Homo sapiens: one gene and its partners. The protein of the gene in region 1 purifies or fractionates together with the protein of each later gene. This does not show direct contact. Each region holds a gene or a part of one and is shown on either strand. Other genes may lie near its edges. The genes, in order: PADI4, GMPPA and MAP1S.

Region 1 (3,649 bases):
AGTGGGCCTGCAGTGGCCCACAGCAAACGTCAGATGAATCACTTGCTTGAGCCTCCCGGCCCAAGGATCTCTCAGGTTCCTATCTCCCTGTCCATCTAAGGAAGAGTGGCCGGTGAGGCACCAGGCTGAACCCCAGGAGCCCGGGTCCCCCAAGTGTCTCTTGGCCCTCAGGGACAGTCACCCTGCCTGCCCCGCAGGGCACATACCTGCATCCACTGGTCATCCATGTTCTCCTCCTCAGGGCAGATGGTCAGCTTGCACTTGGCTTTCATGGCCAGAGTAGTCACTGACTTCAGGAAGTCCTCATTTTCAAAAATACTAGAGAGAGCAGAAAAGCAGCTCCTTAGTGCTCTGGAATTTGAAGCTCAGCCTGGAAGGATTGGGAGGGACACACAGGTGGCTCAGGGGTCACCTGTGGCCTGAACAGAGGCTCCTGGCACGTCCGGTCCATCTGCTCTTAGCAGGCATTAGCTCATGGAATCCATCTAACAAGTTATGAGGCAGGAACTAGTGGGTACCCCTTCCACCCGTGTATTAGTCCGTTTTCACGCTGCTGATAAAGACATACTTGAGACTGGGAAGAAAAAGAGGTTTAATTGGACTTACAGTTCCACATGGCTGGGGAGGCCATGGTGGGAGGCAAAAGGCACTTCTTACATGGCGGTGGCAAGAGAAAATGAGGAAGAAGAAAAAGGAGAAAAACCTGATAAAACCATCAGATCTCATGAGACTTATTCACTATCATGAGAACAGTATGGGAGAAACTGCCACCATGATTCAAATTATCTCCCACTGGGTCCCTCCCACAACACTTGGGAATTATGGGAGTACATGTCAAGATGAGATTTGGGTGGGGACACAGAACCAAAGCATATCATCCTGCCCCTGGCCCCTCCAAATCCTATATCCTCACATTTCAAAACCAATCATGCCTTCCCAACAGTCCCCCAAAGTCTTAACTCATTTCAGCATTAACCCAAAAGTTCACAATCCAAAATCTCATCTGAGACAGGGCAAGTCCCTTCCTCCTATGAGCCTGTAAAATCAAAAGCAAGCTAGTTACTTCCTAGATACAATGGGGGTACAGGTGTTGGGTAAATACAACCATTCCAAATGGGAGAAATTGGCCAAAACAAGGGGGTTACAGGGCCCATGCAAGTCCAAAATCCAGCAGGGCAGTCAAATTTTAAAGCTCCAAAATGATCTTTGACTCCAGGTCTCACATCCAGGTCATGCTGACACAAGAGGTGGGTTCCCATGGTCTTAGGCAGCTCTGCCCCTGTGGCTTTGCAGGGTATAGCCTCCCTCCTGGTAGGCCAGTTTCACAGGCTGGTGTTGAGTGTCTGTGGCTTTTCCAGGCACACGGTGCAAGCTGTCAGTGGATCTACCCTTCTGGAGTCTGGAGGACAGTGGCCCTCTTCTCACAACTCCACTACGTGGTGTCCCAGTAGGGACTCTGTGTGGGGGCTCCAAACCAACATTTCCCCTCTGCACTGCTGTAGCAGAGGTTTTCCATGAGAACACCACCCCTGCAGCAAACTTCTGCCTGGGCATCTAGGCGTTTCCACACATCTTTGGAAATCAAGGCAGAGGTTCCCAAACCCCAATTCTTGACTTCTGTGCACTTGCAGGCTCAACACCATGTGGAAGCTGCCAAGGCTTGGGGCTTCCACCCTCTGAAGCCACAGCCTGAGCTCTACACTGGCCCCTTTTAGCCATGGCTGGAGCAGCTGGGATGCAGGGCACCAAGTCCCTAGGCTGCACATAGCATGGGGACCCTGGGCCTGGCCTACGAAACCATTTTCTCCTAGGCCTCTGGGCCTGTGACGGGAGGGGCTGCCATGAAGACCTCTGACATGCCCTGGAGACATTTTCCTCATTGCCTTGTGGCTTAACATTAATCTCCTTGTTACTTATGCAAATTTCTGCAGCTGGCTTGAATTTCTCCTCAGAAAATGAGATTTTCTTTTCGATTGCATTGTCAGGCTGCAACTTTTCTGAACTTTTATGCTCTGCTTCCCTTTTAAAACTGGATGCCTTTAACAGCACCCAAGTCACCTCTTGAATGCCTTGCTGCTTAGAAATTTCTTCTGCCAGATACCCTAAATCATCTCTCTCAAGTTCAAAGTTCCACAAATCTCTAGGGCAGGTACAAAATGCCACCAGTCTCTTTGCTAAAACATAACAAGAGTCACCTTTGCTCCGGTTCCCAACAAGTTCCTCATCTCCATCTGAGACCATCTCAGTCTGGATTTCATTGTTCATATCATTATCAGTATTTTTGTCAAAGCCATTCAACAAGTCTCTAGAAAGTTCCAAACTTTCCCACATTTTCCTGTCTTCCTCTGAGCCCTCCAAACCGTTCCAACCTCTGTCTGTTACCCAGTTCCAAAGTTGCTTCCACATTTTGGGTATCTTTTCAGCAACGCCCCCCTCTACTGGTATCAATTTACTGTATTAGTCCATTTTCACGCTGCTGATAAAAACATACCTGAGACTAGGAAGGAAAAGAGGTTTAATTGGACTTACACTCCCACATGGCTGGGGACACCATGGTGGGAGGCAAAAGGCACTTCTTACATGGCGGCGGCAAGAGAAAATGAGCAAGATGCAAAAGTGGAAACCCCTGATAAAACCATCAGATCTCATGAGACTTATTCACTACCATGAGAATGGTATGGGGCAAACCACCTCCATGATTCAAATTATCTCCCACCAGGTCCCTCCCAGAACACGTGGGAATTGTGGGAGTACAATTCAAGATAAGATTTGGGTGGAGACACAGAGCCAAACCATATCAACTTGGGAGAAGACAGAATATGAGTTCACTGTTCAAGGTCACACCACCTGGAACAGTGCTGGGACCGGAATACAGTCCTCACTGGATTCCAGCCTGCGTCCTGACCACATTACCCTCTTACTCTTCTGCCCCTGAAGCTATCAGAAGAGGGGAGGAGAGGGTCTCCTGAGACCCCAGCACACTTGTCAGCGGCTCTCAGACTGCAGGAAGATTGCCTGGGCCTCCCCAAAATGCAGATGGGCCCCGTCCTCAGGGATAAGACCCAGCAGCTCACAGGCAGCCAGAAAGGTGCATTTTATTTAATTTAAATTTAATTTAATTTAATTTAATTTTTAATTTTTATTATTTTTAATTTTCTCAAGACGGAGTCTTGCTCTGTCGCCCAGGCTAGAGTGCAATGGTGCAATCTCGGCTCACTGCAACCTTGGCCTCCTGGGTTCAAGTGATTCTCCTGCCTCAGCCTCCCGAGTAGCTGGGATTACAGGCACATGCCACAACACCTGGCTAATTTTTTGTATTTTTAGTAGAGACGGGGTTTCACCATGTTGGCCAGGCTGGTTATTTTATTTTTGAGATGGAGTCTCACTGTGTTGCCCAGGCTGGAGCGCAGTGGCGCAATCTCAGCTCACTGCAACCTCCGCCTCCAGGGTTCAAGCAATTCTCGTGCCTCGGCCTCCTGAGTAGCTGGATTACAGGCATGCGCCACCACGCCCGGCCAATTTTTGTATTTTTTAGTAGAGACAGGGTTTCACCATGTTGGCTGGGCTGATCTCAAACTTCTGACCTTAAGTGATCCACCTGCCTCAGCCTCCCAAAGTGCTAGGATTACAGGCGTGAGCCACCGTGCCC
Region 2 (2,948 bases), on another chromosome or scaffold:
GACAGAGACAGAGAGGCCAGGAGAGATGGAGAGGGAAGCAGAGACACGGGTGGGAGTGAGAAATGGCTATGAGCAGAGGAGGCCTTAGATGGGGCGGTGGGGGGTTAAGGCAAGGATCCCTAGAAGGGAACAGCTTCTAGCCCCAGGAGGGAAGACCCTGGGACTGGTGAGCAGGGCTCTGGTGCTATGTTCCAAGGGGAGCCTCAGCCTGAGAGTATGCATGTCTGTCTGTGTGTGCACGTGCACACGTCTGCACCCGAGCATGTGTGCGCCCAACTGTGTGTTGCTGTCTGTTCTGAAAGACGTCTCTGGGACACTCAGGGCTTAGGAGAAATGGACCAGAAGGGGAGTGGGCAGGCAGTGACAGAGGAGGAACTGGGATGGATAAGGAAGAGGGACAGAATGAGGTTAGAAGGGGAGGGACTCAGGAGGCTCTGCTGGAGATGGCAAGTGGAGAAGGGAGAGGGGAGGAGGAAGGTGAGCAAGTTGAGATGGAGCCTGCAGAGACTGGTATGTGTTGGGGTCCGTGACTGGGGGTACTTGGGGTCACAGGGCTATGGGGCCTGCCTCACAATTGCCCATCCTGCTGATTACGCTGGAAGACATCCCGAAGAGGCTTCAAGGCTTCAGGAGAAAAGAGGTAGATGCCGCAGTTGATGATGTCACTGATAAATGTGCTGGGTTTCTCCACATAGTGCAATACCTGAGGACAGAGCAGGCTGGGTTCAGTAGAAGAAGGGACTACCGCCACAGTCCCCTAAGACCCTCTGATTTCTAGGCCCTTCTTGCCTCTCCTCCCTGCTGCCAGGGTGGCCTGGCTAAAATGCAGTGCGCATCCGCATCCTACTGCTGCCTGGCTTTAAACCCTGAGATGACTGCCCTTCACCTGATTCAGCTTCAGATAAATCCAAAGTCCATGGCTTTCCCTGCCTGATCCTCCCCACCACCTACCTCTCAGACGCATTTCCACCCGACTGCATGCCTGTGCCTGGAATGGCCTTTCTCATCTCTTCATCTGGAAAGCCCACCTTTCCAAACCCAGTTGACACTGTCACTCTCTCTGTGCGTCCTCTCTTGCTGGCCCGAGTTAGCTGTTCATGCCTGGGCACTCCTGAACTCTGGCCACGCCTCACCCATGGCATTGTATCATTTGCAAAGGTTGCCTTTTGATTCTGTCACTCCTATTAGACTCACAGTAACCAAGAGGCAGGGACTGCACCCATTTGGCTCTGTTTCTCTCACAGCTACCTGGTGCTGAGCACAAAACTATATGTGTGTAGGTGTGTACATGCATGTGTGTGTGCGTGTTTATATGTATGTTTTATATTAAAGCACGAACAAATAAAAGGAGTATGTGACGCCAGGTATGGTGGTGGCTCATGCCTATAATCCTAGCACTTTGGAAGGCTGAAGTAGGTGGATCACTTGAGCTCCGGAGTTCGAGACCAGCCTGGGCAGTATGACGAAAGCCTGTCTCTACTAAAAATACAAAAATTAGCCTGGCACCTGCCTGTAATCCCAGCTACTCAGGAGGCTGAGGCAGGAGAACGGCATGAACCCAGGAGGCAGAGGCTGCAGTGAGCCAAGATCGCACCACTGCACTCCAGCCTGGGCAACAGAGTGAGACTCTGTCTCAAAAAAAAAAAAAAATCAGCTGGGCATGGTGGCTCATGCCTATAGTCCCAGCTACTTGAGGGGCTGAAGTGGGAGGATGGCTTAAACCTGGGAGGTCGAGGATGCAGTGACCCAAGATCATGCCACTGCACTCCAGCCTGGAAGACAAAGTGAGACTCTGTCTCAAAATAAATAAATAAACACATACATACATAAATAAATAAAGGAGGGAGGGTTATGTGAAAGTCAAGGGGCTTAGGAGAAGGGAGTTTCACAAAACAGGACAGAGCCCTGCTGCCCTGCCTATCATGCTCCTGCTTCTGGTATGTTACTTCCTGCCTCCAGGCCTTTATACCTGCCATTCCCTCTGCCTGTAGTACCTTCCTGTCTCCTTTGTCATCTAGACAAATGGGACTCTGCTCAGACCTTGCTTCCTCCAGGAAGCCCTCTCTACTCCCACCCCAGCAAGGCTGGGTTGGGGCCCCCTTGGTGTTCCCATCATGCACTGTGCATACATTTATTACAGCACCACCCCCAGGGAAATTAACCATTCCCCCCCTCCCCCTGGTCAATCTCTCTTAAAGGGATATAAGATGATTAATCGGGAGTGTCTCACCTGTCTGACAAGACTAGAGCCCACCCCATACTGTGCCAGCATTCTCTAGAGGCCTGAGGTAGAGGGGATGATGACACAGAGTAGGCACCCACCCAGCCCCCACTCTGCTCTCACCTCGTGTGTCTGTGGATTCTCAACGATGCAGCCGTAGTTGAGGGATTGCGTCCTGTTAGCCTGAAAGACAGACACACCCGAGACAGTGACCCGCCTGCTCCAGGGCAGCCACGTCTGTTTTTTCTTTCTTTCCCTCCGCTACAGCACCTGGCATGCAGCTCTGCCACTGACAGGCCTTCAGCAAGGGTGGAAACTGACAGCTGCCCTCCCCCTCCCTACTTCTGAACAGCCAGAGGGCTCGGGGTCTCCACTAACACCTCCATGCTGCCAGAGCAGCGCATCTCCCTCCTGACGCCAGCTCCCACACCAACTCCCGGGGCGCCCCTGCCTCCCCAACACCCTGAATTCCGGGAAGCTCTTGGGATCACCTCCTCTACACCCTCCAGCCCTCCTGACCCCCTCACCGTAGTGCCAAGGAGTAAGAAAGGGTGACGCTGGCGTCGGTGGGCTTCCAACATAGCACTCAAGGGGAAGTCGGAGCAGACATCAGCATTGAGCACGAAGAATGCCTCGGGGCTCCCAGCCAGGATCTGGTCTCGAAAATGGTAAAGACCACCCCCTGTGCCTAGGGGGGCAAATTCCTGCAGGTACCTGTCCCCAGGGA
Region 3 (3,649 bases), on another chromosome or scaffold:
CCAGAGACCCTCCTCTCAGCAAGGCCTGCTTAAAATGTGAGCCTTTGGCTGGTCTCTGGGAATTTGGATCTTAGGCAGAGGGTTCCCACCATTCCCTGTCTGAGAGGGGCTCCCTGTGCCTGGACTGGACCACACACCTGATTTCTCCTTTTTGGGGAGTCTAGAGTGTGGGTGCCAGGCAGAAGATGCCTATGTAATGGCCCAATAGGAAACCTGGGCATGCTGTGTCTAATGAGCTTCCATGAGGGACACACTGTTACAACTTGCTACTGGAGAAATGAAGCCTGTGGTGTGCAGCCCCACTGGGAGAGGATTCTGGAAGCTTCTGCCTGGTTTCCTTTGGACTTCACCCTATGTGCCTTTTCTCTTTGCTGATTTTGCTCTGCTATGAGTGCAACCATAGGCCGGGTCCTCCTAACCAATCAGTTACATAAAATACGCTATTTAAATTTTCAACTGTTTCATTTTACTTATTGTGGCTTCTAGAAACCCACAGTTGGCATACGTGCTCACCTGTCCAGGCACCTCAGAATGGCAAGTGCTTCAACACTGAGGTCAGTTTCCATTTCACAGGAGAAACTGAGCCCCGGAGAGGTGGGCACGGCTGAGGTCACGAAGTAATTACGAACAGGAGGACTTGGCTGGGTGCAGTGGCTCATGCCTGTAATCCCAGCACTTTGGGAGGCCAAGGTGGGCAGATCACCTGAGGTCCGGAGTTCGAGACCAGCCTGGCCAACATGGTGAAACCCCAACTCTACTAAAAATACAAAAATTAGCCAGGCGTGGTGGCAGGCACCTGTAATCCCACCTACTCGGGAGGCTGAGACAGGAGAATTGTTTGAACCCGGGAGTCAGAGGTTGCAGTCAGCCAAGATCGTGCCATTGCATTCTTGCCTGGGCAACAAGAACGAAATTCTGTCTCAAAAAAAAAAAAAAGAACAGAACTGGCAGGGCACCGTGGCTCACGCCAGTCATCCCAACACTTTGGGAGGCTGAGGTGGGCACACAGCTTGAGGCCAGGAGTTTGAAATCAGCCCAGGCAACATAGTAAGACCCTATCTCTACCAAAAACTTTAAAATTAGGCAGGGGTAGTGGCGGTGCCAGTAGTCCCAGCTACTGGAGAGGCTGAGGTGGGAGGGTGGCTTGAGCCCCATTGTTCAAGGCTGCAATGAGCTGTGACCACACCACTGCACTCCAGCTCAGAGACAGAGTGAGACCATCTCTTTTAAAAAAACTGAAAATGTAAAAACAGGGGGACGAGCTATGCTCTCCAGCCTAAGCAGCTGCTAACCCAGCCCAGGGCCCCAGCTCCAGTACTCACCCGACGGGCCTCGAGTGGCAGTCTTGGGGGTTGAGGACTTTCTGGACAGGGGTGCCCGGCCTCCCTTCTCACTGGGCTCACTCCGGGCACTGAGTGGTCGGCTGGCACGGTCCCCACCAGCAAGCCCCTTGGTTTTGGCAGCAGCCACTGGAGTGGCTTTGGGGGCGGCAGCGCGTGAGTTGGGGCGGGCCAGGGGCTTCCGGGTGCGGCTGACGTTCTCCGTTTGCCGTGCTGTCTTGGGGGGCAGCATCTCGGGGTCCACCATGCAGATGCTGGATGGGTCAGGCAGTGGTGGGGGGACCTTGAGGGGGTCAGGCAAAGGGTCGTGGCGAGGGACTCCAAAGCCCTCTGTGTCTTCGTCTGAGTCTGCCGCACCGGGGGCCAGGGGCACGGGATCCGAGTCAGACAGGGTGGGCAGGGACTCGCTGACCGATGTGGGTGGCGTCTCCTCGGCCCCCAGCCCACCTGCCCGTTCCTGTGACCGGGCACTGCTGTCATTCGAGCTGCCGGGGGACGCAGGTGCCGGTGCCATTGGCACCGCCTTGCGATGCTCAAATTCACAGGGTGACACCAGGCACAGGTCCACATCGTGTGGGGAAGCCGAGCGCCGCGCCCGGGGGCCACGCAGCGGGAGGCTCAGCCCAGCCTCACTGGTGGGGGCGGATGGCGGCAGCACCTGCTCAAAGGACACCGACAGGGACTCGTCCACCTCGGTCGAGTGCGGGGAGCCCACCTCTGCGGGTAGTGAGGGCGTGGTCACCGTGGGTGTGGTCACTGTGGGTGAGGCGTCTGGCCCGGCCTCCCCGCCCCGCAGTGGGCTCAGCGACAGCCGCTCGCTGCCCTCTGCGGGGCTCCGGTGGGACTCAGGGGAGGGTGTGCGTGGCCTTGGGATTGAGCTGGCGGCCAAAGGCAGCTCCAGTGCCTTCTCCTCCCCGGCTGGGATCGGCCCCAGCTCCAGGCTGGGCGTGGCCACCAGCTGGGAGGCCGGAGAGCCGCAGGCTGCACTGGGGGGGCTGGCTTCTCCACATCGGAGGCTGGGCGGGCTGCGGGGTCCATTTGCCACCGGCGGGAAGCCAGAGTGGGACGTGCTGGGCGCTTTGCGGGGCTTGGGTGCCGCCTGGGCATTCGTCTTCTTGAGGTTGGGCACAGAAGAGGCTGCCCGGCGCACCTCCCGCGGCTGGGTCCGGGAGACACTCGGTTTGGGGTCTTTCTTCAACTCCCGGGGGGTCTTGGCTTCTTTCTCAGTCTTGCGTGGGGCCTCAGCCCGTGCTGGCTCCTTGCGGGCCACCCCAGGGCGCTCCTGGCCAGGTCTAGGGTGGGTGGCCAGGAGGCCCTCTCTCTTCGAGCTGTCCCGGGAGCCCACGCTCTCTTTGCTCTCGGCTCGCCCCGGCCCCTCCAGGTCCTGGGGCGTCACCACGGGCTCTCGCAGGAACCTCAAGTGCTGCAGGCGGACCAGGCCGTCCAGGAGGCAGGCGGGCGGGGTGCAACCGGGGAACAGCACGCGCACCACCTTCTCGCCGGGGCCGGCGGGGTGCCACACCAGCAGGGCGCACACAGAGGCCAGCGTGCGCTCGGCGCCGGCGGAGGGCGGGTGCAGCACATACATGTCCAGCCGGCCCACGCCCATCTTCTCGAAGAGCACGGTGGGTTTGGCTGGCACGGGGCCGCGGCTGAGTGGCAGAGGCGTGATGCCCAGCTGCGCCAGGAGGCTCAGCGCCAGCTCCGCCTCATCCTCGCCGCGCGCCAGCCGCGACGCGGCCTCGCAGGCGTTGAAGAACACGACCCCCAGGTTGGGGGAGATGAGCCTGCGCAGCCTGTCGTCCCAGGAGCCCCCACCAGCAGCCACCTCGGAGCGCTCCGCCAGTTTGCGCCGCAGCAGGCTGTTGAGGCCGGGGAGGCTGTCGGCGCCAGGGTGGGTCACCAGCACGGCATCCACGCGGTCCAGGTGCCGCACCAGCTTCCAGAAACTGGACTTGGGGTTTGAGCCACCGTTGACCAGCACAGTGAAGCCATTGACGGCGAAGAAGGCGGCATCCCCGAGGCCTCCAGGGAAGATGTAGCAGCAGGGCCGGCCCAGCCTGAGGAAGCCCCCGGAGGTCGGGGGCTCCAGCAGCTCGAAGGGGGACGGTGGCTCCAGAGACTCAGCCACGTACTCCAGGAATTCGCACAGGCCCTCAGAGTTGGGCAGCTGCGCCGGGGGGTTCAGCCGCAGCTGGAGCCGGAGCGCCCCCTGAAGGCCAGGCACAGCGGGTGCCAGCTGAGCCCAGTCACCGAAGGTGGGGCAGGTGATGGTGAGTATGGGCGGCTGCACAGGTGGGGGCGTGGTG

Evidence for each region.
Region 2: the proteins of PADI4 (region 1) and GMPPA purify together in Homo sapiens (affinity purification with mass spectrometry; one large-scale study listed by BioGRID and IntAct). This does not show direct contact.
Region 3: the proteins of PADI4 (region 1) and MAP1S purify together in Homo sapiens (affinity purification with mass spectrometry; one large-scale study listed by BioGRID and IntAct). This does not show direct contact.

What each region holds. Positions count from the first base shown.
Region 1 is NC_000001.11:17,342,697-17,346,345, reverse strand, and holds part of PADI4 (protein-arginine deiminase type-4), read right to left. Parts: intron 319-3,649; coding exon 207-318; intron 1-206. UniProt on the Homo sapiens protein: Catalyzes the citrullination/deimination of arginine residues of proteins such as histones, thereby playing a key role in histone code and regulation of stem cell maintenance.
Region 2 is NC_000002.12:219,501,838-219,504,785, reverse strand, and holds part of GMPPA (mannose-1-phosphate guanylyltransferase regulatory subunit alpha), read right to left. Parts: intron 2,936-2,948; coding exon 2,749-2,935; intron 2,405-2,748; coding exon 2,345-2,404; intron 704-2,344; coding exon 573-703; intron 1-572. UniProt on the Homo sapiens protein: Regulatory subunit of the GMPPA-GMPPB mannose-1-phosphate guanylyltransferase complex; reduces the catalytic activity of GMPPB when part of the complex. Mediates allosteric feedback inhibition of GMPPB catalytic activity upon binding GDP-alpha-D-mannose.
Region 3 is NC_000019.10:17,725,846-17,729,494, reverse strand, and holds part of MAP1S (microtubule-associated protein 1S), read right to left. Parts: coding exon 1,323-3,649; intron 1-1,322. UniProt on the Homo sapiens protein: Microtubule-associated protein that mediates aggregation of mitochondria resulting in cell death and genomic destruction (MAGD). Plays a role in anchoring the microtubule organizing center to the centrosomes. Binds to DNA. Plays a role in apoptosis.